Linked DNA regions of Homo sapiens. The protein of the gene in region 1 interacts with the protein of each later gene in a pairwise test. Each region holds a gene or a part of one and is shown in the gene's direction. Other genes may lie near its edges.

Evidence for each region.
Region 2: the proteins of MAGEB2 (region 1) and ECSIT interact in binary tests that used the Homo sapiens proteins (3 or more experiments, as listed by UniProt).
Region 3: the proteins of MAGEB2 (region 1) and ZBED1 interact in binary tests that used the Homo sapiens proteins (3 or more experiments, as listed by UniProt).
Region 4: the proteins of MAGEB2 (region 1) and ARID3A interact in binary tests that used the Homo sapiens proteins (3 or more experiments, as listed by UniProt).

The regions. Positions count from the first base shown.
Region 1 is NC_000023.11:30,211,732-30,218,571, forward strand, and holds the start of MAGEB2 (melanoma-associated antigen B2), read left to right. Parts: upstream 1-3,831; 5' UTR 3,832-3,924; intron 3,925-6,797; exon of another isoform or gene 6,798-6,840. UniProt on the Homo sapiens protein: May enhance ubiquitin ligase activity of RING-type zinc finger-containing E3 ubiquitin-protein ligases. Proposed to act through recruitment and/or stabilization of the Ubl-conjugating enzyme (E2) at the E3:substrate complex.
Region 2 is NC_000019.10:11,512,132-11,519,155, reverse strand, and holds part of ECSIT (evolutionarily conserved signaling intermediate in Toll pathway, mitochondrial isoform 1 precursor), read left to right. Parts: coding exon 1-81; intron 82-4,934; coding exon 4,935-5,352; intron 5,353-5,876; coding exon 5,877-6,100; intron 6,101-7,024.
Region 3 is NC_000023.11:2,497,968-2,505,288, reverse strand, and holds the start of ZBED1 (E3 SUMO-protein ligase ZBED1), read left to right. Parts: upstream 1-4,312; 5' UTR 4,313-4,363; coding exon of another isoform or gene 4,364-4,472; intron 4,473-4,663; exon of another isoform or gene 4,664-4,978; intron 4,979-7,321. Other genes in the region: DHRSX (polyprenol dehydrogenase), read left to right, coding at 4,364-4,472.
Region 4 is NC_000019.10:964,014-971,037, forward strand, and holds part of ARID3A (AT-rich interactive domain-containing protein 3A), read left to right. Parts: intron 1-234; coding exon 235-418; intron 419-819; coding exon 820-1,067; intron 1,068-2,558; coding exon 2,559-2,855; intron 2,856-4,391; coding exon 4,392-4,490; intron 4,491-7,024. UniProt on the Homo sapiens protein: Transcription factor which may be involved in the control of cell cycle progression by the RB1/E2F1 pathway and in B-cell differentiation.

The DNA.
Region 1 (6,840 bases):
TAAAATCATGAAATAAAAAAAAAAAGGTGAGATGTGTTCAATTCTTGATTTGCCTTATTCCTTTTAGCCTTTCTTTTTAAAAAATTAAAAGATATATAGCTGGATTTGTTTGGCTTTTTCAAAAATGTAAGATAAATTAAATTGTACTCATTTAGTACTCTTGTTCATTGGCTCTTTTATTCCCTAAATATTAATCAATTCTCTGCTCTTTGGAAGGCTCAATGTTAGTACTGGAGATGAAGGAGATGAGAAGAAATAAAAAAAGAAAGTTTTACCCATTGTCCAAAGAATTTTAGTCGTTAGGAGCAGCTATCATACAAATACATGGTGAAAGTATCTCTCAGATCCAAAGGACAAGGTTAAAAAAGATGGAGGCAGGTAAGAAAGTGGGAAGGGTTCCAGATGAGAGTGTGTAGTGTAAATGCTCTGAGAAAAAGAAAGCTAGGGCCTTGGGAAACTGCAGGTCCCTCACTGGGAGGTAATTTTAAGTGAGGCTGCATGCTGGACTGGAGGAGGCTGTGGGAGTGGTGAGCAGGGCAAGACCCTCAGATGGTAAGCTTCAGAGTTGAGAGACTAAGCCTATAATGGAAAAGTGCTCTTAACTTTGGAGAAAACTGGAAAGAAGCTCCACCAGGGGCAGCACTGGAAAGTGACTATGCTCTTGTCCCAGTGCAGATGAACACAGTGCAGAAACTAGCTGCTTTATATACATTGTATCCAGTGAGCTTCGGAGAAATAAGGATGATACTCCCTTAAGAAGAAATGATAAGAAGCCGCTGGGTACTCTGCACTGGGCTGGAAGAGTTAAGAGTCAATTTCATTAAAAGGAGCATTCAAATTAGGCTATCATGTACATAATTTGGCAAGCTCTAGGCAAGTTCTAGGTGTTTGGTGCTTGTTAAATTAATGAAAATAAAGGTGATTTAGATGGAAGTGACACTGGGAGGGAAGGAAGTTGTTAGTCCTTGACGCAAATGCGTTGTGTTGCACCTAACTGGAGAAGTCTACCTCACATTGAATAATTTATCATTTAATGGGGAAATATTACTTGATTTTTCGTGCTAATCTGCATTTTGGCTTATTGGGTTTTCTTTCTTCTAGAATGCTGCATATTCTCTGACATCTGTTGGATTAAGAAAAAGCAATCACAGTGGGATGGGTGGTATCATCAAGTTAATCATAGGTAATAGCTGCCATGTTGAAACCTCAATATGGGCCAAGTATTGTGCCAGGTGCTTTACATACATTAACCACATTTCACCAATTCCACAAGGAAGGGGCTTATCAAACCTATTTCACAGATGCAGAGCCTGAGGCTCACAGAGTTTAGTAATGTGCCTGAGTTCACATAGCTGGTAAGTGGCAGGGCTGAAACCAGACCCCCAGTCTGGATTAATCTACATCCCACACTGTTCCAGTCTTCCCATTCTGAGGCTAACCTCATGTTGCTTCATTCATTTTTTCTCTCTATTTTTGAAAAATGTATCTCAGGCAATAAAAAGAAGGACTCTGTGCCCATACTACTGGGTCAAATATATTCCCAGACCAATATGAATGCCAAAATAAATGAGAGGCATAAATAAAAAAAAGAAAAATAGTACCTGGTGTCAATACGTTCATCTACACAAGCAATATCAGGTAATCTCAAAAGATCAGAAGCTCCCAAAATCATCCTGGACAGTCTCTTCCCTGTAGAAAATAAATGTGTCAGAACAGAATTTTCGTGAGAATCTAAGTCTAGCAAGATGGAAAAAATCAGCATGTTTTTTTCTCTGACAGCCCACTACCTGTCCTGGAGCTTCTGCCTTGTGCTTCAGCTTCCCTATCTCACATCACTCCCGGAACACGGCTCCTTCTCTGCAAGGTTTGCAGTAGAAAAACTGGTCATGTTTGCAGGGATGTGACATTTCCCAGAAAGCCTTTAATGAAAGATGATCCCCAGTTCAGAGGACATGGGAAACCAATATCTCAGAATATATGAGGTTATGCATAGACTGACTCTCATCTGCTCTCAGACCTAGAGAGCTCGAGACAGAACTGTCAGGCTGAGCATCCACTCATTTAATCTTCAGACCTCTCATGGACATGGCCTAAGAAGGTCAACTTCATGTCAGTAGATGCAGTTCAGCCTCTGATAGATATGAACGTGAGGACCCTGAATGAAGATGATGGAAGGACCCAGCCAGAACTGTGGGGTCCCAAAAAGTCCAGCTCAGGCTGTCAGCCCTTCAAAGTCCAGAACAGCCCTGGCTAAATGTAGCTCACCACAACTTCCAGTTCAGAGGTCGGCAGAGGGTGAGTACCTTGATCTGATGGGAACAGCCTCAGGTCAGTGGAGGATGGAGTGCCCCAAGACTGGCCAGGTGTCATGGTGAGGACCCTGAAGAGAAATAAGAGAACTGTTATAGGACCAACGAGTTTCTGTGTCAGCTGCAAAGTAACAGACCCACTATAATAAAACAGCAAAGTTTGCAGCAAAGAGTTTAATGATTGCAGGGTGCCAAGTGAGGAGATGAGAAGAGACTCTCAAATTCATCTCCCCAAGGAGTTCTGGGCTGGGATTTGCAAGGAGATCATGGAGGGCGAGGGGCTGGAGAACTGAGGTTGTTGATTCGTTGGGGTAAAGGGGATGAAATCATCAGAATGTGGAAACTGCGTTTTTTTTTTTTTAGTCAGCTCCTGTGGGGTCTTTTGGACCAGCTGATGTCAGTAGGGTCCTTTAGAGCAGCTGGCATCAGTGGGGTCCTTCAGACCAGCTGAGTCATTAGAATCATCAGTATGCAGGACCTTAAGGAATATCTCAAAGAAAAAAAGTTTCATTATGTTAAAATTGTTATCTATAGAGCAATTAAGGGCAACTATAATCTAGTAACAGGATCTACATGATTCTGGGATAATAGGCACCAAACTACTATGAGGAAGCAGGTCAGAGAGCAGCTGACTTCATGATTAATGCTGAATGTTCTGCAAGCTTGGCGTATCTTCATTTATCTCCCTTCCCTCTTCCCTGATTAATTTTATACAGTTCATAGGGGCAGTTTCAAAACCACCCACCCCAGAACAGAGGAGCCCACAAATTCCACCAATGCTGTCACCCTTGGGGAGCCCAGAAGAGAATTATGAGGTGGAGAAATCCCATCAATATGCCTCGTGTGTTTCACAGAGGTGAAGACCTTGGACTAGTGGAAATGGCCCTAGGTCAAAGAGACAAAACCCACGCCCTAACAGGAATCAAGGTGAGGATCCTAAGTGTTACGAGGGGGCTCTCCCCCTTGCAACACCAGCAGAGGGGGCCAAACAGAGCCCCTCGCCATTGTTAGCACCGAGAGGCCCCAAAATAAGTATCTCTGAATCCCCTTCATTCCACCTGTATAGTCTCGGGGAAGGAAGGGCCTTTGTCTGAAGAGGGTGACCCCAGTTGTGCAGAGAGAGAGTCTTGGCTTTCACGGGAATCAAGGTGAGGACTCTGAGGGCGGATGAGAAGACCTCTCCCCAAAAAAGGCACATTCACAGAGCCCTGCCGCTGCTGTCAGGCCTGTGAGGCCCAGGCAGGGGTGGCCTGTTTGGCACGCTTAGATTTCCACAGTGGGGGCTGAGGGAGGTGGGGGTATTGTTTGGAGGCTGGCGGATTTGGGTCAGCACGCATATTCGTCCCAGGCTGCTAGATACTGAGGTGAGGACCCCTAGTGGAGACGAAGGGACCAGCAACGCTAGAACAGTGACGTCCGGTAGCGTCCAGCCGTCAGCCCTCAGACGCCACGGGCTGCCGGATGTGAGTCATCCTGACTTCCGCTTTGAAAAAAAAGACCCGAGCGGATGTGGCTCATCCTGACTTCCGCTTTGGAGGCGAGGACCCGAGCGAGTGTAGGGGGTGCGGCGTCTGGTCAGCCAGGGGTGAATTCTCAGGACTGGTCGGCAGTCAAGGTGAGGACCCTGAGTGTAAACTGAAGAGACCACCCCCACCTGTAACAAAGAGGGCCCCACTAAGTCCCGCTTCTGCATTTGGTCCTGAGAGGCTCCGGTAAAGCCGTCCGGCAATGTTCCACCTGGAAAGTTCCAGGGCAGGGGAAGGGTGGGGGGAGGGGCAGTCGCGGGGGAAGGAGGTTTGGACGCAGGGAATAGGCCTCATTCTGCACGTAGGGTGGGTGTAGGCCCTAACTGAAATCAATTTGAGGGCCCTAAATGTGGACTGAAGAGAACATCTCCTACCCTTAACAAAGGTGGCCTCACTAAGTCTCGTCCCTGAAGACGGCTCTGGGAGGCCCCAGCAAAGCTGTGCCTGGAAAGTCTCAGGGAGGGGAGGGCCTTGAACCTAGGAAGCAGCCCTGCTTCTGCTCATATGGCATCAACCTAAAACCTAACTGGGGTTAAGGTGAGGACTCTGAGTATTAATGAGCGGACCTCTACCCAAAAGAGGAGTCATGCTGGGCAGTTCCCAGGCCGAGGTGACACTGGGTTTTAGATGGTCCCAGGCTGACATGACAAATGCAGAGCAACCTGACTTCCTCTCCCGGGACTAAAGAAGTTGAGGGCTACATCCAAGACCCACATCTGCTGCCAGCAATAGGAAGGTCAGGGCAAAGCTAGCAAGCTGAGATGCTCTCTAGTTTCCTCTGGAGGTGGTCTCAGGGAGGTGAGGGTCTTGGTGTAATGGGGTAGGTCTAATGCGACAGAGAGGCCCAGTCTCTAACAGGAAGCAAGGATGTGACACTGAGTGATGAGGAGGGGACTCCAACCAGAAAGAAGTGCCATATAGAGCCCACTCTTGTTGTCAGACCAGGGAGACCTGAGCATGGCATGTTGAGTTGTACTCACTCTCCCCAAGACATCTCAGAGAAGTGAACGACCCCATTAAAGAGGGCAGCCTGGCCGGGCGCGGTGGCTCACGCCTGTAATCCCAGCACTTTGGGAGGCCGAGACAGGCGGATCACGAGGTCAGGAGATCGAGACCATCCTGGCTAACACGGTGAAACCCTGTCTCTACTAAAAATACCAAAAAAAAAATTAGCGGGGAGCGGTGGCGGGCGCCTGTAATCCCAGCTACTCGGGAGGCTGAGGCAGGAGAATGGTGTGAACCTGGGAGGCGGAGTTTGCAGTGAGCCGAGATAGAGCCACTGCAGTCCGGCCTAGGCGAAAGGGCGAGACTCCGTCTCTTAAAAAAAAAAAAAAAAAAGGCAGCTTGAGGTCAGCAGAGGGAGGGTTTCCAGGTTGTGCCAGATGTTATGATAAGAACTCTGACGACTGCAGGGGGCTCCCACCCCATATTAGTGGGAGCCACACAATCCTCAGTACTGTCAGCTCTGAGAGACCCCAGGCAGAAATGTGAAACAGAGGTGCCCATCAGTTCCCACTCAAGGGTAACAGGGAAATGAGAGTTTTAATCTGAGGGTGGTGATCACTTGTCAACAGAAGTAATGTACTAATTGGTCCATTCTGGCATTACTATAAATACCCAAGACTGGGTAATTTACAAAGAAAAGAGGTTTAATTGGCTCACAGTTCTGCAGGCTGTACAGGAAGCATGATGCTGGCATTTGCTCAGCTTCTGGGAGCAGGGCTCAGGAAATTTACAATCATGGCAGAAGGGGAAGGGGAAGCAGACATGTTACATGGCCAGAGCAGGATCAAGAGGCCAGGGGAGGCGCTACACACTTTTAAATGACCAGATCTCATGAGAAGTCATCGTTAAGGGGAATGGTGCTAAACCATTCATGAAAAACCTGCCCTCATGATCCAGTCATCTCCCACCAGGCTCCACCTCCAACATTGAGGATTACAGTTAGACATGAGATTTGGTGAGGATACAGATCCAAACCATATCAGGGAAGAATCTTAGACCCTCTCATGAGTCAAATTTAGAGGCTGAGTTGGGACTGTATGTGGGACCATCTATCACAGGGCAGTTATCTGCCTGCCACAGCTTTTACTTTTGGGAAGACCACATTTGGTCAGATAAGGCCACCCTCACTTCCTCCTATGGGTTCTCAGGGATGTTCACTCTTACCATGACGACATAGGCCTCAGTTCAATAAAAAGGAGAGCTCCTCTACCAGGAGTCAAATTGAGGAATCTGAGAATTCAAGGAACCACTGAACCCTTAACAGTGGAGACATCAAAGAATCCAGTCCAACCCTTTATTTTCAGCCCTAGAAAGCTCAGGAAAGGGTTATCAGGTTTAGTGTCCCCCTCTCTTTTTTATATAAGATCTAAGAGAGGTGAGATTCTTAGTCTGACGGTGTAGCCACCACTCAGCAGAAGGGGGCTGGTGCCAAGCCCTACATGAAGCCAAGGTGGGGACCTTGAATGAGAGCTGAAGACTCTAATGATTCCAAGACATCAAAGACCCCACTGAACTCTCAGCACTGGGTGTCACTTCTCAGGGTGGTGGTTGAGGCACCCCTTCAATTTCTTCTCATGAGTCCCAGGGTGCTTTGAGGTGTCAAATTCACAGTAGCGGAAGGGAGTGGCTCAGGCCCTGCCAAGACTTCATATGATAATCCTAAAAGTTAACTGATAAAACCCCAAACACCAGAAGACAGGAGGCCGCACTGCCAGTACCTCCTGTCACCATAGTAAGCCCAAGGAAGGGCTGACAGAATGCAGTCTGAAACTCACTGTAGGGGTTCTGTGGTTCTTCTCTGGTGTCTCAGGGGAAAGGATAACCAGGACGACAGGAGCCTTGTGGCTTTCTAGAACAGTGCCTTCAGGGAAACTTGCAAAGGCAGGCTTCCTTCAGTAAAGCTAAGATGGGGTCTTCCAGCTGAAGGTGCTCACAGATCTCATTCTCCCATCTCCAGGTATACTAACCATCTATTCTTCTGCCCACATTTCTTGGTTTAC
Region 2 (7,024 bases), on another chromosome or scaffold:
GCCACCCTACTGGCCCGAGGCCTCTGTAGGGCCTGGGGAGGCACCTGCGGGGCCGCCCTCACAGGAACCTCCATCTCTCAGGTAAGCACCAGCCAGGCAGTCTTTTGGGTAGAGGGAGGTAAGCTTGGGATTTGCTCCCAACTCCTTCAGAATCCACTCTGTGAAGCCAGTTCTGGTGAGTCTGGGCTGGCCTATCAGTGCCGAGGTCCCATTAAAAGTCCTTAGTTTATGTATGTATGTATGTTTATGTGTTTGTTTTTTGAGACAGTGTCTCTGTCACCAAGGCTGGAGTGCAGTAGTGTGATTACAGCTCACTGTAGTCTTGACCTCCCAGGTTCAAGCAATCCTCCCGCCTCATCCTCCCAAGTACCCAGGACTACAGGCACATACTACCACACCCGGCTAGTTTTTGTATTTTTTTTGTAGAGACGGGGTTTCACCATGTTGGGCAGGCTGGTCTTGAACTCTGGGCTCAAGTGATCCACCTGCGTCAGCCTCCCAAAGTGCTGGGATTACAGGCGTGAGCCACCGCGCCTGGCCAAAAGTCCATAATTTATTTATTTTTTTGAAACAAGGTCTTGCTCTATCACCCAGGCTGGAGTACAGTGGTGGAATCAGGGCTCACTGCAGCCTCAAACTCCTGGGCTCAAATGAGCCTCCCACCTCAGCCCCCTGAGTAGCTGGGATCACTGATTTGAGCCACCATGCCCAGCTAATTTTTTTTTTTTTAGATGGAATTTTGCTCTTGTCGCCAAAGCTGGAGTGCAGTGGCGTGGTCTTGGCTCACTGCAACCTCTGCCTCCTGGGTTCAAGTGATTCTCCTGCCTCAGCCTGCCGAGTAGCTGTGATTACAAGTGCACATCACCACGCCCAGCTAATTTTTGTAATTTTAGTAGAGACGCGGTTTTGCCATGTTGGCGAGGCTGGTCTCAAACTCCTGACCTCAGGTGATTCACCCGCCTCGGCCTCCCAGAGTGCTGGGATTACAGGCATAAGCCACCGCACCCGGCCGCTAATTTTTTTTTTTTTTAAGTATATGGTCTTGTTGTGTTGCCCAGACTGGTCTTGAACCTCTGGGCCCTCAGTCCTTCCACTTTGGCCTCCCAAAGTGCTAGGATTACAAGTGTGAGCCACTGTGCCTGGACCCTAATTTAAGAGATGCTAGTGCCTACGTGGGTGAGGGGATTGACTTTGAAAATAAGGATGTATGAGCTCGGTGGATTTGTGTGGTGACTGTGAGCAGCTCCTCCTGCATCTACTTGTGAAGATGGGGCAGAAAACTGAATTTCTTTCCTATACCCATAGTGACCAGATGGCGAAAGCAGATTGACAGCCATAGATAGCAATAACGATGATGGTGGGAATATTAATAGTTCCCATATTGAGCACTTACTCTGTGCCCGGCCCCGCACTATGCATTTCATTTACATTACCTCCTTTGCAGTGTTTCCCCCTCGTTAGGCATTTTAGAGCTTCCTTTCTGATTTTTACCCCAAAGTGGTACAATACTACACCACCTATATTATTAATTGACTGAAATTTCAGTTGTTTTTTGTTTTTGAGATGGAGTCTCCCTCTGTCACCCAGGCTGGAGTGCAGTGGCGTGATCTCAGCTCATTGCAACCTCTGCCTCCCGGGTTCAAGTGATTTTCCTGCCTCAGCCTCCTGAGTAGCTGGGATTACAGGTGTGCGGCACCACACCTGGCTAATTTTTGCATTTTTGGTAGAGATGGGGTTTCACCATGTTGGCCAGGCTGGTCTCAAACTCCTGACCTCAAGTGATCCACCCGCCTCTCAAAAGTGCTGGGATTACAGGCACGAGCCACTGCGCCCAACCTGAAATTTTACTGTAAATGAATGCCTTTTTTTTTTTTTAACATTGCCTTATCAAAGAACGATATGGGATGGCTGTGGGGACCGCAGAGTAGGGGGACTGAGGGCACTGACTCCATTCTCAGCTCTGATGCTTTGCAGCTGTGTAACACTGTGCATCCCACTTCATCTTCCTGAGCCTTGGTTTTTCTCATCTGTAAAATGAGTGCAGTAAGAGTACCCCCCACCTAGGGCCTCACATTTGTAAAGTGCTCAACTGTGTCTACAGTGGAAGAATATTTGGTAAATATTGTCTCTTTCTTTTGAGATAGGGTCTCGCTCTGTTGCCCATGCTGGAGTGTAGTGGCGTGATCTTGGCTCACTGCAACCTCGACCCGCCAGTCTCAATTGATCTGCCTACTTCAGCCTCCTGAGTAGCTGGGACTACATACATTCACCACCATGCCTGGCTAATTTTTGTATTTTTTTGTAGACATGAGGTTTCAGCAGGTTGCCCAGGCTGGTCTCAAACTCCTGACCTCAGGTGATCTGCCCGCCTCAGCCTCCCAAAGTGCTAGGATTACAGGTGTGAGCCACCGAGCCTGGACTAATATTGGCTCTTACTTGTTAGCGTTTTGTGTGTGTGTGTGTGTGTGTGTAGATAAACACACACACATTCATTTATTTTTTAGAGATAAGGTTTTACTCTCTCGTTCAGGTTGGAGTGCAGTGACACAATCATAGCTCACTGCAGCCTGGGATTCCTGGGCTTAAGCAGTCCTCCTGCTTCAGCCTCCTGAGTAGCTGGGACTACAGGTATACACCACCACGCCCCGCTTATTTTTTTATTTTTTCATAGAGAGATGGAGTCTCACTATGTTGCCCAGGCTGCAATGCGGTGGTGCAATCAAAGCACAGTACAACCTTGATAACTAGCTGTATATTTTTAAGATGCCTTATATGTAACCCTTCTAATTTAAAAATTCAATTTAAAATAAGAAATTTGTTACTGTGTCATCTAGAACCAGAATTTGGCTACTCTGGAGGCTGAGGTGGGAGGATCACTTGAGCCCAGGAGTTCTGGGCTGTTGTGCACTATGCTGATGGAGTGTCCTGCACTAAGTTTTGCTTAATATTGTGACCTCCTGGGACTTGGGGGACCACCAGGTTGCCTAAGGAAGTGTGAACTGACCCAGGTTGGAAACAGCAGGTCAAAACTCCTGTGCTGACCAGTTGGCTCATGCCTGTGAATAGCCACTGCACTCCCGCCTGGGCAACATAGCTAGACTCCATCTCTTAAAGGGTCCCAGCACTTTGGGAGGCCACGGTGGGTGGATCACCTTAGGTCAGGAATTCGAGACCATCCTGGCCAACATGGTGAAACCCCGTCTCTACTAAAAACACAAAAATTAGGCCGGGCATGGTGGCTCACATCTGTAATCCCAGCACTTTGGGAGGCCGAGGTGGGCGGATCACAAGGTCAGGAGTTCAAGACCAGCCTGGCCAACATGGTGAAACCCTGTCTCTACTAAAAATACAAAAGTTAACTGGGCATGGTGGCATGTGCCTGTAATCCCAGCTACTTGGGAGGCTGAGGCAGAAGAATTGCTTGAACCAGGGAGTCAGAGGTTATAGTGAGCTGAGATCGTGTGACTGCACTCCAGCCTGGCAACAGAGCGAGACTCCATCTCAGGAAAAACAAACAAACAAAACATAAAAATTAGCTGGGCATGGTGGCAGGCGCCTGTAATCCTAGCTACTTGGGAGGCTGAGGCAGGAGAATCGCTTGAACCCACAAGGCAGAGGTTGCAGTGAGCTGAGATGACACCATTGCATTCCAGCCTGGGCGACGAGTGAAACTCTGTCTCAAGAAAAAAAGAAAAAGAAAGAAGGGGCTGGGTACAGTGGCTCATGCCTGTAATCTCAAGACTTAAGGTGGCTACGCCGGGCGCGGTGGCTCATGCCTGTAATCCCAGCACTTGGGAGGCCAAGGCGGGCGGATCACGAGGTCAGGAGATCGAGACCATCCTGACTAACACAGTGAAACCCCGTCTCTACTAAAAATCCAAAAAATTAGCTGGGCGTGGTGGCAGGCGCCTGTAGTCCCAGCTACTCAGGAGGCTGAGGCAGGAGAATGGCGTGAACCCGGGAGGTGGAGCTTGCAATGAGCCGAGATCGCGCCACTGCACTCCAGCCTGGGTGACAAAGCGAGACTCTGTCTCAAAAAAAAAAAAAAAAAGACTTGGGGAGGCTGAGGCAGGTGGATCACTTGAGGCCTGGAGTTTGAGACCAGCCTGGCCAACATGATGAAACCCCATCTTTACTAAAAATACAAAAATTAGCAGGGCGTGGTGGAGCACGTCTGTAGTCCAGCTTACTTGGGAGGCTGAGGCATGAGAATCGCTTGAACATGGGAGGCAGAGGTTGCAGTGGGCTGAGGTCACGCCACTGCGCTGCAGCATGGGTGACAGAATGAGACTCTGTCTAAAAAAAAAAAAAAAAAATTACAAGCAAAAAGGGCCACCAGGCACAGTGGCTCATGTCTGTAATCCCAACACTTTGGGAGGTGGAGACGGGATGATCACTTGAAGCCAGGCGTTCAAGACCAACCTGGGCAAAATAGTGCGACTCCCGTCTCTGCTGAAAATTTAAAAATTAGCCAGGTGTGGTGGTGTACACCGGTAGTTCCAGCTGCTGGACAGGGTGAGGAGGAGAATTGCTTGAGCCCAGGAGTTGAAAGCTGCAGTAAGCCACAGTAGCACCACTACATTCCAGCCTAGGCCACAGAGCCAGACCCCGTCTCAAAAAAAAACCAAAAAAAAAAACCCAAAAAAAAACCGGCATGTGTGTGTCATCACTGTGAATATTACCAAGTTGCCTCCGTGGCAGTTTTTACCAGCTCCCCGTAGCCATGGCTAACAGTGCCTGTTTCCTCCCTACTGTGCCAGCATTGTGTTTTATCGCACTTTGTAATGGCCTCGAATCTTGGGTTTGTAACCACAGTTCCATACCTCCGAGTCCTCAGGGAGGCCACTGGGACCTCTCTGAGGAAAGAGCCAGCCTGGCGGCCCCCCATAGACACTGAGAGGTGCCAGATTCCAGCAGTTCTCCTCCCTCCCCAGGTCCCTCGCCGGCTCCCTCGGGGCCTCCACTGCAGCGCAGCTGCCCATAGCTCTGAACAGTCCCTGGTTCCCAGCCCACCGGAACCCCGGCAGAGGCCCACCAAGGCTCTGGTGCCCTTTGAGGACCTGTTTGGGCAGGCGCCTGGTGGGGAACGGGACAAGGCGAGCTTCCTGCAGACGGTGCAGAAATTTGCGGAGCACAGCGTGCGTAAGCGGGGCCACATTGACTTCATCTACCTGGCCCTGCGCAAGATGCGGGAGTATGGTGTCGAGCGGGACCTGGCTGTGTACAACCAGCTGCTCAACATCTTCCCCAAGGAGGTCTTCCGGCCTCGCAACATCATCCAGCGCATCTTCGTCCACTACCCTCGGCAGCAGGAGTGTGGGATTGCTGTCCTGGAGCAGATGGAGAACCACGGTGAGGCCAGGAGGCTGGCGCAGGGTGGGGAGTGGGCTACACTGATAGCTGGCAGCACCTCTCCTGAGTCTCAGCCCCTCCTTCCTCCATGGCTCCGTCTCTGTCTCTCTCGCTCTTCTCCCTCTCCGAATCCCTCTTTTCATCACTCATCTCTCTTTCTTGCCTCCCTCTGACCTCCCCTCCCCTCCCCCCTCCCTCCCTCTCCTCCCCCCACTCTCCTCTCTTCTCCTCTCCTCCCTGCCTCTCTCTCCCTCCCTTCCTTCCTCTCTTTCTCTCTTTCTTTTAGAAATGGGGTCTCACTATGTTGCCCAGGCTGCTCTCAAACTCCTGGACTCAAGTGATCCTCTCCCCTTGGCCTCCCAATGTGCTGGGATTACAGGCATGAGCCTTTTTCTTTCTAATTCTCTCTGATTCTTTTCTCCCTGTCTGTGATCAATTCCCTCACTTCACTGTTTTCTTTTCTCCTCTTCCCTTCCCTCCTCCCCCTCCATCTCTGAGGTTCTGCCTGCATCTGCCCAGCACAGGTGTGATGCCCAACAAGGAGACGGAGTTCCTGCTGATTCAGATCTTTGGACGCAAAAGCTACCCCATGCTCAAGTTGGTGCGCCTGAAGCTGTGGTTCCCTCGATTCATGAACGTCAACCCCTTCCCAGTGCCCCGGGACCTGCCCCAGGACCCTGTGGAGCTGGCCATGTTTGGCCTGCGGCACATGGAGCCTGACCTTAGTGCCAGGGTCACCATCTACCAGGTATCCGCCCTTGTCTACAGCGTCAGCTGCCACCCCAGGCCAGGCTCCCGCCATTCCTCCCCTGGGCTCCCCTTCTCTCACTCTAGTGATTGTGGTGAATCAAGTTCTTTTTTGAGACAGGGTCTTGCTCTGTTGCCCAGGCTGGAGTGTGGTGGCACTATCTCGGCTCACTGCAGCCTCTGCCTCCCAGGCTCAAGCGATCTTTCCACCTCAGCCTCCTGAGTAGCTGGGACTCCAGTCACACACCACTATGCCTGGCTAATTAAAAAAACTGTTTTTTTTTTTCAGAGACAGGGTCTCACTATATTGCCCAGGCTGGCCTTGAACTCCTGGGCTCAAGCAATCCTCCTGCCTCGGCCTCCCAAAGTGCTGGGATTACAGGCATGAGGCACTGTGCCTGGCCGTGAATTGAGTTCTGATTCTCTGGCTGAGTCCCCTGGTAGGTTCCCATGGTCCTTACTGCTAGCACAGCTTGAGTGACCTCTGCTTCAGTCCGTTCAGGCTGCTCTAACAAAATCTCTTAGCTTGGGTCATTGATGAACAACAAAAATTTATTGCTCACAGTTCTAGAGGCTGGGAAGTCCAAGATCAAGGTGCCACCAGATCTAGGTCTGGTGAGGGTTTGCTCTCTGCTTCAAAGATGACACCTTGCTGTGTCCTCACATAATATAAGGGGCAAACAAGCCCCTCAGACCTCTTCATATTTTTTTTGAGACAAGGTCTGGCTCTGTTGCCCAGGCTGGAGCGCAGTAGCACTATCTTGGCTCACGGCAAATTCCACCTCCCAGGCTGAAGCCATCCTTTCACCTCAGCCTCCCAAGTAGCTGGGACTACAGTCGTACACCACCACGCCCGGCTAATTTTTGTATTTCTTGTAGAAATGGGGTTCCACCATGTTGCCCAGGCTGGTCTCAAACTCGTGAG
Region 3 (7,321 bases), about 28 Mb from region 1:
CATTCACATGGAAATCAAAGTCAATATATGACAGATGATGAAATGAGCCTCTGAGAAGATAAGTGGGTTGTGGGGAAGGTAGGGGTGTCTCCCAAACCATTGCTGGAAGCACCAGGTGATGCATTCTGCTTTTAGCCCCCCAATTCATGGCTCTAGACGTCACTATCCTTTTGCTCACAAACATCCTTTTAGATAACTACCAGAAGTCCCCAAAGGGAGGAGCATGTCGGGCTACAATAAGCCCACTCCCCTGCTGCTCCTGGTGGAATCCTTGGTCCTTCTGAATTTGGCAGTGGGGTCACGGTTTCACACCCCATGCAACGGCAGCTCTCCTGGGAAAACTTTAAGGTGGGGACAGGGGTGACTGTGGATTTTCCCAATGCTTCTGGCTGGGTGCCCTGGCCACACCTAGGCATACCTGGTCACACCTGAGGATACCTGGGCACGCCTCAGGATATCTGGACACATGGCCAAACGAGAAAGCTTCAGTTTTCTCATCTGTAGGACAGAAGGTTGCAAAGGCTGGAATAACCTTTTTTTTTTTTTGAGATGGAGTTTCCCTCTTGTTGCCCAGGCTAGAGTGCAATGGAGCAATCTCGGCTCACTGCAACCTCCGCCTCCTGGGTTCAAGCAATTCTCCTGCCTCAGCCTCCTGAGTAGCTGGGATTACAGGCATGCGCCATTATTTCCAGCTAATTTTGTATTTTTAGTAGAGACAGAGTTTCTCCATGTTGGCCAGGCTGGTCTCGAACTCCCGACCTCAGGTGATCTGCCCGCCTTGGCCCCCCAAAGTGCTGGGATTACAGGCGTGAGTCACTGTGCCTGGAGAAGCCCTCTTTTTTAATTTAATTTTTTTATATAAAAATAATAAAGACAGGTTTTGTTATGTTGCCCAGGCAGGTCTCGAACGCCTGGGCTCAAGCAATCCACCCTTCTCAGCCTCCCAAAGTGCTGGGATTGTGCGCGTGAGGCGCTGCACCTGGCCCACAAGGAGCCTTCTTAATCCAACCTGGTTACTGAATCACACCTGAGCATACCTGGCGACACCTGAGCATACTTGGGCACATGTGAAGATACCTGGCACACTTGGCCAAATGGGACAGCCCCATCCCTTGGTCTTCCTGGCCTCAGTTTCCTCATCTGTAGGACAGAGGGTTGCAAAGGCCACAAAGACCCTTCTTAACCCAGCTTGGTCACCTGGCCACACCTGAGGTCGCCGGGTAGGTCTCTGTATTCCAATCATCTTAGATCTGCACCAGAGCCCACCCAGTGGCTGGGTGCAACCTGCACACTGGGGGTGCCCCTTAGTGCCTGTTGAGGTTCTGTGGGGAGTGAGGCCTGGAGGGTTCAATTCCTATGGGAGTGGGGATGCATCCCAATGGGGGCCAAAGTTCCAGATAGGTTGTGGCCCTGCAAGGTGCCAGGGTCCCAGTGAGATGTGGAGTGTGGGGTTCTGGCTCCCAGCAGGGATAGAGTTCCTGGCTAGGGTCAGGTGACTTGCTGGTGGAGATTCTCACTCCTGGACCTCGGCAGGGGCTGGGGGGTGCCCATCGGCACGTGTATGAGGGTGCAGACCTAGAGTGAAGGTGGAGGTCTGGGTCCTGGGGATGATAGGGTTGGTGATTTAGGGTCCCAGTGTTGCAGGAGAGGGGTCCCGATCTAGCCCCCAAGAGTGGGTTCTTGGATATTGCTCAAGAAGTAATTCAAGGTAAGTCATAAGAGTACAGGGAAGTTTTAGTTTATTAGAAACTATTCCATTACATGCTGGGTGTGGTGGCTCATACCTGTAATCCCAGCACTTTGGGCGGCCGAGGTGGGCAGATTACCTGAGGTCAGGAGTTTGAGACCAGCCAGGCCAACATGGTGAAATCCCATCTCTATTAAAAATACGAAAATTATTTGGGTGTGCTGGTGCATGCCTGTAATCCCAGCTACCAGGGAGGCTGAGAGAGGAGACTCTCTTGAATCTGGGAGGTGGAGGTTGCAGTGAGCTGAGGTTGCGCCACTGCACTCCAGCCTAGGCCACAGAGCCAGACTCTGTCTCAAAAAAAAAAAAAAAGAAAAAGAAAGAAAGAAAAAAAAAGAAACTGTTTTGTCATAGAGGTGTAACACCTTGTGTTTGTTTTAAAGCTTCCTTCTATAGGGGTCTGTCTTATCTATGTAAAAGCTAGGTTATGTCTGACGGCGTGACATTTATTCCTTAGTTGATTTAGAGAGAGCCATCCTTTGCATTTTCGCGCCCAAGCACGTCCATGCATGACTGTAATTATCTTTAACAGCATATGTGGTTACGCGATATGGCGACATCCAGACATTCCGCTGTCGTCTGTGTTTGTCCTTGGAGGCATTATTAAGTCATTTCTTCAGCCGTAAACATCTTATGACCATGGGCCGTGACCGGCAAGGAATGTGTCTTCCTGGTTTTTAAGATGGAGTTGATGATTAAAATGGTGTCACCCCAGCTCTCCCAGGCTCCTGTCTCCCAAACACAGCGGGTGTTAGGATCTGTGTGGAGTCCCGGATGCCAGGTCTGGGGTCCCCTGGGGGACCAGGTGTGGGACTGGGAGGGTTGTGGTGGGGTGAAGGTCTGAGTGTCTGGGTGGGGGGTTCCATGAAGAATTCCAGTAGGAGTCTGCTGGGGGGTCCATGTGGGATTTCAGCCTTGGCCCTGGTAAGGGTCTGGGTGGGGGTTCTGTGCTGGTCTGGGGTTCCCTGAGGGAGCCCAGGTAACTCTGTGGTTGTCTGGGGTTCCCAACCAAGGTCTGAGTAGGGGTCTGCTGTCCCAGTAGGGATCAGGGTGGGGAGGGGGCTCGTGGTCCCTGAAGTAGTCTGGAGTTCTCTGCAGGGGCCGGGAAGGGGGTCTGTGATCCCTGCAGGGTTGTTGGGGGCAGGGAAGTGGAGGGGTAGGTTTGGTGGGTGGTGTCTGTGGCCTGGCAGGAATTGGGGTGGGGTCTGTGGTCTCAGTAGGAACTGGGGTGTGGGGTCCGTGCTTGGGGCAGGTTCTGTGGTGTCAGCAGGAACTGGGGTGTGGGGTCCGTGCTTGGGGCAGGTTCTGTGGTGTCAGTACGAATTAGGGTGTGGGGTCCATGGTCCTTACAGCTGTTCAGAGTCCTCTGTGGGAGTCCTGGTCCATAATCCTGGCATGGCTCTGGGTGGTTGTCTGGGGTTCCCTATGGGGTCCAAGTCCTTGTGGTCCCTGCTGAGGTCTGCGTGGGGTTACATGATTCTGGCTAAGATGGGGAGGGTGGTTCCCGTGGTGGTCCTGGTCCCCTGCAGGGTCTGGGTAGGGGATCTGTGATCCCATGGTGGGGGTCCTGGCTGGGGCTTGAATGGGGTTCCATGGTCTTGGCTGGAGTGTGGGGTCTTGGAGAGGCAGTCCAGCTGGGGTCTGTAGTCCTGGGGGGCGTCCTGGCAGGGGTCTGTGGTCTTGTGGGGTGCTGGCTGGGGCCTGTGGTCCGGGGGGTGGTTGTGATGGAGGTGGAGGTCCTAGAAGGGGGCCCCAGTAGGGGTCTGTGATCCTGGAGAGGGGTCCTGGTGGTGGGGGTCCCAGTGGAGGTCTGTGGTCCTGGGGGGCCCTGGGAGGATCTGTGGTACTGGGGAGTCCTGGTGGAGGTCTGTAGTCCTGGTGGGGTTCTTGGTGGGGTGTCTGGGCGTGCCCCAGTGGGGGGGCCTGTGGTCTTGGGGGTCCCAGCAGGGGTCTGGGGTCCTGGGGGGTGTTCTTGGGAGGAGTCTATGGATCTGACTTGGGTGCTGGCTGGGGTCTGTAGTCCTGGGGGCGTCCTGGCTGGGGCTGTTGGTCTTGTGGTGGTGGGGATCCCTGCTGGGGTCTGCAGTCCTGCCGGGAGGGGGAAGGGTCCCTGCTGGGGTCTGTGGTCCTGGAGGAGGTGTGGAGGGTCCCTGCTGGGGTCTGTGGTCCTGGGGGGGATTCCTGGCTGGGGTCTGTGGTCCTGGCTGGGGGTGTGTGTGGGGGGTCCCTGCTGGGGTCTGTGGTCCTGAAGGGGGGGTCCTGACTGGGGTCAGTGGTCCTGGGGGCGTCCTGGCTGGGGTCTGTGGTCCTGGGGGGGGGGGTCCTGGCTGAAGTCTATGGTCCTTGCAGGGGGGGGTTCCTGGCTGGAGTCTGTGGTCCTGGGGGGGGTGTCCTGGCTGGGGTCGGTTGTCCGCTCGGGGTCCCCAGTCCTGCAGGCGGTGCGGGATCCCAGAGGGCCCGGGCGGGGTCTGGGGTTGGGGGTTCCCCGCAGGCCGGGGCGGTTCGGGGCGGGCAGGGGGCGGTCCGGGGCGCGCGCGTTTCCGCCGTCCGTCCGGGCGGGCGGGCGCAGAGTCCCGCGGGCGGCGCGGAAGCGGCGGCGGCGCGGCCGGGGCAGCCATGTCGCCATTGTCTGCGGCGCGGGCGGCCCTGCGGGTCTACGCGGTAGGCGCCGCGGTGATCCTGGCGCAGCTGCTGCGGCGCTGCCGCGGGGGCTTCCTGGAGCCAGGTCAGCGGGGCGGGGCAGGGGTCAGGGCTCCGGGGACCCGGGTGGGCGCGGGCTGGCTCGGGGGCGGGGGCGCGGGGGCTCCGCGTGACCTTGGCGAGGCGGTGGCGCTCCCGGAAGTGGGGCTGGGCGGGGGTCGAGGTGTGGCCGGGGGTGGGGGGGGGGCGGCGTGCGCGCTGGGACCTCCCCGCCCCGCGCTTTCCGTCCCCGCCGGCTCTTCTGCGCGCCTGGCCCGGCCCGACCCGGCCCGACCCTTCCCTCCCCGCGCGTGTGGCCTCCCCGCCTGTCCCGGGTCGGGCTCCAACCAAGCAGCCCCCGTGCAGCCGCCCCCCCGCGCACCCTGACACCTCCGGGCCATGGCCGGGGACCCGGGGGCTCGCACGCCCCGCGCCCAAGACATCAGGCGGCTCTGCCTGCCGCCTGCGGTCGGCCAGTGACCGCGCGCCCCCGCCAGGCCCCGGAGGGGAGGAGCGGGCGTCCCAGGGACCTCGACCCCTACCCACCCCAGGGTAAGTGAGGATGGGCCCTTCTCCGGAGGACGTCTCCAGAGGGGGCCCAGAGGCGGCTTCTCGGGCACTGGGGAGCCACGGAGGTCTGGTGGGGAGGGCAGGCCCGTTAAGTGGCAACTTTGTTTCCTTGGCCTTTGTAAACATCTCTGAGTCACAGATCTCCAACTTTGCAGGACTCGTTCACTGTCTGAACTCATCAGTGATGACCGCCACTGTGTTTTGTGTATGCAGATAACTTCTGTTCCTAGATTTGCAGGTTCAGAATTTATTATTATTATTATTTTTTGTAATAGGAAGTAGAGATGAAGTCTTGCTCTGTTGCCGAGGCTACTCTCGAACTCCTGGGCTCAAGCAGTCCTCCTGCCTCAGCCTCCCAAAGTGCTGGCATTACAGGCACCAGCTACTGCATCCGACTAATGTTTTAAAGTTTTGTAGACGGGGTCTTGCTATGTTGCTCAGGCTGGTCTCGAACTCCTGGGCTCAAGCGATCTTCCTTCCTTTGCCTCCCAAACTGTTGGGATTACAGGTGTGAGCCACCACACCTGTCTAATGTTTTAATTTTTTTGTGTAGCAATAGGGTCTTGCTACGTTGCCCAGGCTGGTCTGAAACTCATGGGCCGAAGCAATCCTCCTACCTGGGTCCCCCAAAGTGCTGGGTTTACAGGCGTGAGCCACCACGCCTGGCTAATGTTTTAAATTTTTTGTAGAGATGGCATCTCACCATGTTGCCCAGGCTGGTCTTGAACCCCTGGCCTGCAGCAATCCTCCAGTCTGGGCCTCCCAAACTGCTGGGATTACAGACAGAGCGCCACTGTGCCCAGCCCATATTCTCAATTTAAACCTAGAAACCTGTAAACAATTATTTGTGAACTGGAATAAAGGGAATGTTAATTCCATGTTAGGTTAAATGATACTTTGTTTCAAAAATAACAGTTTTCCAAAACAGAGCGTTCAGAGGGTCAGTGTGGTGGGGGTGGGGGTGTACGTTGCCCTGAATGTCTTAAATGTCCAGCCTAAGAAGAGAGCTGTTATTTCTGCCTCTGTAGACAGTTTCATGGCATGTCAGGAGGCCTCTGGAAGACACTACTGCACGCCTCTGGGAGACTGGGAGTCAGCCAGGCGAAGCGCTTGGGTGCCTTATTGTGAAATGACTTTTGACTTCCACTCTGCACCCACTGAAGGAATCCCAGGGGTCCCAGCGCCACCCTTTGAGAAGCGTGCCTGGAGTGGATGTTTTAAAATGAGCCTCTCTCTCCCGCCTCTAGCCAGAGAAAAAGAGCTTTGAGTTTTCTGTGAGCTAAGCTTTTCTTTTTCTGCCAAACTGGCCTTCAGTATTTTTTTTTAAACCCACTTAGCATAATTACAAATGCATAGAAGAAGGAGAGTAAAGGGAACTGTAGTCAGGCTTTCGGAGGGCAGGAGAGCATGTTTGTTTGAAGTAAGTAATCAGTTGCAAGGTGAACGGTTTACAGCTGCTGAACAATTGTGTGGAGTCTCGCAGAAGATTATGTTTATCCGGGCAGTTTTGCTTACAGAAAGGTCCCCTTAAACCTCCTTAAGGGCCTGTGTGGGCCCTGGCAGAAGAGGCCGGGGTTCCTGCAGCAGCTCACCAAAATGCTGGCCTTTGAAAAACTTGCTCTTTGTGCATTAGAAAAAGGGCTGGAATCTTTTTTTTTTTTTTTTTTCCCATTTACTGATTAAACAACAACAGAAGGTTGTTAAAGAGGACGAGCTTCTGGTGAAGTCACGTGTCTGCCAAGGGAATCTGTACCCGGGTGTGTATCGAAACAGAATGGCCTTCTCTAAAGATTAACTTAAGTGGCTTGCCCTCATCGAGCCCCTTCCTATGTATGGATTAAAAATAATTTTCGATACCAGTGGAGGAATGCTGTTGTCCTTGGTCTGCTGGTGGCCAGCTTCCTAAACGGCATTTTTTATTTGCTTCTCTCTGGTAGGCCTTCGCTGTTGGTGAGGAAACATTGAACTTTGTCCAGGGCATTTGAGCTAAGCTGTTTGAATAACCAAGAGGGCCAATTTCCCCACTGCAGATTGGAAGCAAGGGCAGTTTTTTCTTAGAACTTCCAAATGGAGCGTGTTCTTCTTAGGTATCGTACAAAGGAAATGCCTGGGTTACACCTTCCACATGAGTTGACTTACATGGTATGAGAAGGAAGAAATTGTGGCTGGAATCCACTCCTAAATGGTGTCTTCTTACAGTTCATCATGGAAAAACAAGATAATTACAAATTAATCATAGATGTTGGTCATGCCTTTACAGAGGGGGTTTAGAAGCAAATTGAGAATTCCCATAAGAGGGTCTGTCTCTGTGTTCTTAAGACTATA
Region 4 (7,024 bases), on another chromosome or scaffold:
GTTACTGGTGGATAAACCGAGGCAGAGCTGCCCCCTCTGCACCCTCTCGAGCAGAGGTTCCCAGCCTGGATGATCCTGCACCCACAGAGGGCCCTGGGCAATGTCTGGAGACATCTGTGGTTGTCACAGCCTGGGCGGGGGAGTGCTCCTGGCATGGAGAGGGCGGAGGCCAGGACACTCGGCTCCCTGCAGTGCCCAGGTGGCCCCCAACCTCCCTCTCGCCCCTTCCCCCAGGGACACCTGTGAACCGCATCCCCATCATGGCCAAACAGGTCCTTGACCTGTTCATGCTGTACGTGCTGGTGACGGAGAAGGGCGGCCTCGTGGAGGTCATCAACAAGAAGCTGTGGCGTGAGATCACCAAGGGCCTCAACCTGCCCACGTCCATCACCAGTGCAGCCTTCACCCTGCGGACCCAGTGAGTGGCGGACGGTTGTGCCGAGGTCGGGCCAGGGCACTCTGAGCAGCCAGTGCAAGGGGCCTGCAGAAGAGGGAGGGGGTGGTGGGCAGCTGCAGAGGAGGGGGCAGTGGGCAGCCGCAAAGGGCACAGGGCCACACCGTGCGTCCAGGGCCCGAGAGCGTCAAGTAGGGGTGCGAGGACCACACAGTCTCTGGGGTTGTGCAATCAGGGGCCATTGCGAGGAACAGCATTGAGATGGAGGGAATGGGCAAAGGCCCAGCAGCTCTGGGGGCTGCTGAGCAAGTCCAAGGGAAGAACCAGGGATGGTGGTGCCACAGTGGGGTTTACTTTGTACTGAAGGCCAAAGAGAGCCGTAGGGGTGACCCGGGTGCCATCCTCTTCCCTCGTCCCACCCACAGATACATGAAGTACCTGTACCCCTACGAGTGTGAGAAGCGGGGCCTCAGTAACCCCAATGAGCTCCAGGCAGCCATAGACAGCAACCGACGGGAGGGCCGGCGCCAGAGCTTTGGTGGCTCCCTCTTTGCCTACTCGCCAGGCGGGGCACACGGCATGCTCTCCTCACCCAAGCTACCCGTGTCCTCCCTGGGCCTGGCCGCAAGCACCAATGGCAGCTCCATCACCCCCGCCCCTAAGATCAAGAAAGGTAAGGGCCTGTATGGGGCCTGGGGCGTGTTCCCAACTGAGCTTCAGCCTGGCTGTCTGACCTTGGGGGATACCTCTTCCCCTCTCTGGGTAACCAGGATGAAAAACCCTATAGTTGGCATGGAAAAGGGCTTCCAATCTACCAGTCCTCTGCCTATGGCAGACATTACCAATCCATCACCATTTTCTAATTCCACACAGGTGGCAGGCAGACATTGCTAATCAATCTGTGTTTCCAGTCCTGTGGCCAAGGCAGACATTACTAATTGATCACTGTTTTTCCAGTCTACACTGAGGCAGGCATCATCAGTTGATCAGTTTTCCCTCCCACTGAGCCTCTGAATCCTCCATAACACAGAGGTACCAACAGCACACACAGCAGTGTCACCTCAGTTTGCCTGTCTGAGTTACCATTTCTCATCTGGGCAACATAGTGAGACCCCATCTCAAAAAAAAAAAAAAAAATTAGCTGGGCGTGGCAACGTGCACCTGTGGTCCCAGCTACCCAGGAAGCTGAGGTGGTCAGATGGGTTGAGCCCAGGAGGTCGAGGCTGTGGTGAACTGAGATTACACCACTGCACTACAGCCTGAGCAACAGTAGTGAGACCCAGTCTAAAAAAAATTTTTTTAGGCCAGGCACAGTGGCTCACGCCTGTAGTCCCAGCACTTTGGGAGGCTGAGGCAGGCGGATCGCTTGAGGTCAGAAGTTTGAGACCAGCCTAATCAATATGGTGAAACCCTGTCTCTACTAAAAATACAAAAATTAGCCGGGTGTGGTGGCACACACCTGTAGTCCCAGCTACTTGGGAGGCTGAGGCAGGAGAATCGCTTGAACCCAGGTGGCAGAGGTTGCGGTGAGCCAAGATCACGTCACTGCATTCCAGCCTCAGCGACAGAGTGAGACTCCGTGTCAAAAAAAAAAAAAAAAAAAATTAGCTTAGTGTGGTGGTGGGCGCCTGTAATCCCAGCTACTCAGGAGACTGAGGCAGAAGAATCACCTGAGCCTGAGAGGCAGAGGTTGCAGTGAGCTGGGATCGCGCCACTGCCCTCCAGCCTAAGCAACAGAGCGAGACTCTGTCTCAAAGCAAAAAAAAAAAAGGCTGGGCGCGGTGGCTCACGCCTGTAATCCCAGCACTTTGGGAGGCCGAGGCGGGCGGATCACCTGAGGTCAGGAGTTCAAGACCAGCCTGGCCAACATGAAGAAACCCCGTCTCTACTAAAAATACAAAATTAGCCAGGCGTGGTGGCGGGTGCCTGTTTCCCAGCTACTAGGGAGGCTAAGGCAGGAGAATCACTTGAACCCGGGAGGCAGAGGTTGCGGTGAGCTGAGATCGCACCATTGCACTCCAGCCTGGGCAACAAGAGTGAAACTCCGTCTCAAAAAAAAAAAAAAAAAGAAAAGAAAAGAAAAAAGAAGGTGCATGTTCCTGCCTTGAGTGGAAGGCAGGGCCCAGCCCCTCCTGGCCACCAATTCCCCTTTTTTCCTACCTAGAGGAGGACTCAGCCATCCCCATCACAGTCCCTGGCCGCCTGCCTGTGTCCCTGGCGGGCCACCCTGTGGTGGCAGCCCAGGCAGCAGCTGTGCAAGCAGCAGCCGCCCAAGCAGCTGTGGCCGCACAGGCAGCTGCCCTGGAACAGCTGCGGGAGAAGCTGGAGTCTGCAGAGCCTCCGGAGAAGAAGATGGCCCTGGTGGCCGATGAGCAGCAACGGCTGATGCAACGTGCACTCCAGCAGAACTTCCTGGCCATGGCGGCCCAGCTGCCCATGAGCATTCGGATCAACAGCCAAGGTACTGCCCTCGTGCCCAGACCCGCTGTGCTTCCTGCGTGTGTCACACAGTGAGGGCCTTGGAGCCTACATATGTAAAGAGTGCCAACAAATCAATAAGAAAAAAAAAGCCGGGTGCAGTGGCTGACATCTGTAATCCCAGCACTTTGGGAGACCGAGGTGGGTGGATCACTTGAGGTCAGGAGTTCGAGATCAGCCTGGGCAACATGGTGAAACTCCATCTCTACTAAAAATACAACAAATTAGCCGGGCGTGGCAGCGCACCCCTGTAGTCCCAGCTACTTGGGAGGCTGAGGCAGGAGAATCACATGAACTGGGAGATGGAGGTTGCAGTGACCCGAGATAACGCCACTGCACTCCAGCCTGGGCAACAATAGCAAAACTCCATCTCAAAAAATAAAAAATAATAAAGTAAACTGGCTGGGCACCGTGGCTCATGCCTATAATCCCAGCACTTTGGGAGGCTGAAATGGGAGGATTGCTTGAGCCCAGGAATTTGAGATCAGCCTGAGCAACACAGTGAGATGCCATCTCTACAAAAGTTAGCTGGGCGTGGTGACACGCTCCTGTAGCCCCAGCTACTCGGGAGGCTGAGATGGGAGGATCACTTGAGCCCAGGAAGTCGAGGCTGCAGTGAGCCATGATTGCACCACTGCATTCCAGCCTGGGTGACAGAGCAAGACCTGGTCTCAAAAACAAGGTAAAAAAAAACAAAGTGGAGTATGGACAAATACACTTATTCAACAAATAAATATTGAGCACCTACTGTGTGCACTGGTGACAGCATGAATGTGACAGACACCGTCTACACCTTGTAAAGCTAAAATCTAGTTGGCGAGACAGACAGAAAACAGAACATGTCACAGGTGTCTTTATGATCAGAAATGGCAGTTTTGGTCGGGCGCGGTGGCCCACGCCTGTAATCCCAGCACTTTGGGAGGCCGAGGCGGGCAGATCACCTGAGGCCAGGACTTCAAGACCAGCCTGGCCAACATGGTGAAACCCCGTCTCTACTAAAAATACAAAAATTAGCCGGGTGTGCTGGTGTGTACCCATAGTCCCAGCTACTCAGGAGGCTGAGGCAGGAGAATTGCTTGAACCCTGGAGGTGGAGGTTGCAGTGAGCCGAGATCGCACCACTGCACTCCAGCCTGGGTGACAGAGTGAGACTCCGTCTCAAAAAAAAAAAAAAAGAAAGAAACTCATTTGTTCGGCTGGGCACAGTGGCTCATGCCTATAATCCCAGCACTTTGGGAGGCCGAGGCGGGTGGATCACGAGGTCAAGAGATCGAGACCATCCTGGCCAACATGGTGAAACCCCATCTCTACTAAAAATACAAAAAATTAGCCAGGCGTGGTGGCGGGCGCCTGTAGTCCCAGCTACTGGGAGGCTGAGGCAGGAGAATGGCGTGAACCCAGGAGGCAGAGCTTGCAGTGAGCTGAGATCGCGCCACTGCACTCCAGCCTGGGCAACAGAGCAAGACTCTGTCTCAAAAAAAAAAAGAAAAAAAGAAACTAATTTGTTCTTCTTCCCACAGCCTCCGAAAGCCGCCAGGACTCTGCTGTGAACCTGACGGGCACCAACGGCAGCAACAGCATCAGCATGTCGGTGGAGATCAACGGCATCATGTACACAGGTAGGACCCCTGAGGCCACGCCCTGCCTGGACCTCGCCTCTCCCGCCGCCGTGAACTCAGGACCCTGAGTTGCGCCTGGTCCCACCTGCTTGAACCTAGGTGTGCGGGCGAGCAGGGCACGGCCAGGGGCTTTGCAGGACAAACAGTCAAGACTGATGGAGAGGATACCATCGTTCACCCGGTACCACGCTCAGCCCAGAGGGGGTCGTCCACAGATACATATTCAGTGTGACGTTGGATGGTTCACATTCCTAGTTTTTTGTTTTAATGAGACGGAGTCTTGCACAGACATGCACCAGCACACCTGGTTAATTTTTAAATTTTTTGTTGCTCTTTAAATTTTAAATTGCTTTGTTGCTCAGACCGGTCTTGAACTCTGGGCTCACGCAATCTTCCTGCCTCGGCGTCCCAAAGTGCTGGGATTACAGGCGTGAGCCACCGCACCCAGCCAATCCCAGCATTTTCGGAGGCTGAGGAGCAAAGAATGTATAAGCCCAGGGGTTAGAGACTTTCAGGCTGCAGCAAGCTGTGATGACGCCACTGCACTCCAGCCTGGGCCACAGACCGAGACCCTGTCTCTTGAAAAAAAATTTAATGAATGTATTTTTTATTTTTTTTAATTTGTAATTTGTAATTTTTGTGGGTACATAGTAGGTATATATATTTATGGGTTTTATGAGATGTTTTATACTGGCATCCAATGCCTAATAATCACATCAGGGTAAATGAGGTATCCAAAAAATTGAATCTAGGCTGGGTGCAGTGGCTCATGGCTATAGTTCCAGCACTTCGGGAGGTTAACACGGGAGGATCACTTGAGCCCAGGAGTTCAAGACCAGTCTGGGCAACATAGTGAGACCCCATCTCTCCTAAAAATATAAAAATCAGCAGGGCGTGGTGGCAGGCGCCCATAGTCCCAGCTACTCGGGAGGCTGAGTAGGGAGGATCACTTGAGCCCAGGAGGTGGAGGTTGCAGTGAGTCAAGATCACACCATTGCACTCCAGCCTGGGTGAAAGAGTGAGATCCCGTCCTTCTCTCTCTCTATATATCTATATATAGATATATCGATAGATATAGCTGTAGCTATACATAGATATATATAGATTAGATATAGATTTATATGTATCTATAAATACATATATACTTTTATATCTATATCTACATAGATATATATATATATAGTTGTTTTTTTTTTCTTTTGAGAGGGAGTCTTCCCTCTGTCACCCAGGCTGGAGTGCAGTGGCACGATCTTGACTCACTGCAACCTGTGCCTCCTGGGTTCGAGCGATTCTCCTGCCTCAGCCTCCCCAAGTAGCTGGGACTACAGGCGTGTGTCACCACACCCAGCTAATTTTTTTTTGTATTTTTAGTAGAGATGAGGTTTCACCATGTTGGCCAGGCTGGTCTTGGACTCTTGACCTCAGGTGATCCGCCTGCCTCGGCCTCCCAAAGTGCTGGGATTACAGGCATGAACCACCGCGCCCACCCTATATATACATATTTTTTTAAATAAAATGAATTAAAAAGTTGCCGGGCACAGTAGGTCACACCTGTAATCCCAGCAGTTTGGGAGGCTGATGTGGGTGGGTCACAAGGTCAGGAGTTCAAGACCAGCCTGATCAACATGGTGAAACCCCATCTTCCCTAAAAATACAAGAATTAGCGAGGTGTGCTGGTGTGTGCCTATAATCCCAGCTGCTTAGGAGGCTGAGGCAGGAGAATTGCTTGAACCCGGGAGGCGAAGGTTGCAGTGAGCCGAGATCGCGCCACCGCACTCCAGCCTGTGCAATGGAGCAAGACTTCGTCTCAGAGGAAGAAAAAAAAAAGAATTAAAAAATTTAATTAAAAAAGTGGAGTCAGTGCCAGGGGCAGTGGCCCACGCCTGTAATCCCAACACTTTGGGAGGCTAAGGAGAGAGGTTTGCTTGAGGCCAGCCTGGGCAACACAGAAGACCCCATCTCTACAAAAGAACATAAGTAAATGAATAGTTTTTCTTTTTTTTTTTTTTTTTTTTTTTTTTTGAGACAGAGTCTCACTCTGTTGCCCAGGCTGGAGTGCAATGGCATGATCTCAGCTCCTGCAACCTCCGCCTCCTGAGTAGCTGGGATTACAGGTGCATGCCACCAGGCCCGGCTAATTTTTGTATTTTTAGATGATACGGGGTTTCACCATGTTGGTCAGGCTGGTCTCGAACTCCTGACTTCGTGATCTGCTGGTCTTGGCCTCCCAAAGTGCTGGGATTACAGGCATTAGCCACCACACCCGGCGGTAAATGAATAGTTTTTCTTAAAGTGGAGTCAGGCCGATGGTTCATAGTGGCCACCAGGTGGCGCTGTCGACACAGAGCAGCCTTGTTGCAGGCCCCCGCCCGGCTGTGGTCAGAGGCTGAGCTGAAGGTCAGTGGTGTCCTCACAGGTCCACAAATGGATTTTTGAGGGGTCCGTGCCCTCCGGAAATCAGATGTAAAACGTGTACATTCATATTGAATCTTACAGGGGAGAAGGCCAACTGTGTGCTAGGGGTCTCGCAACCC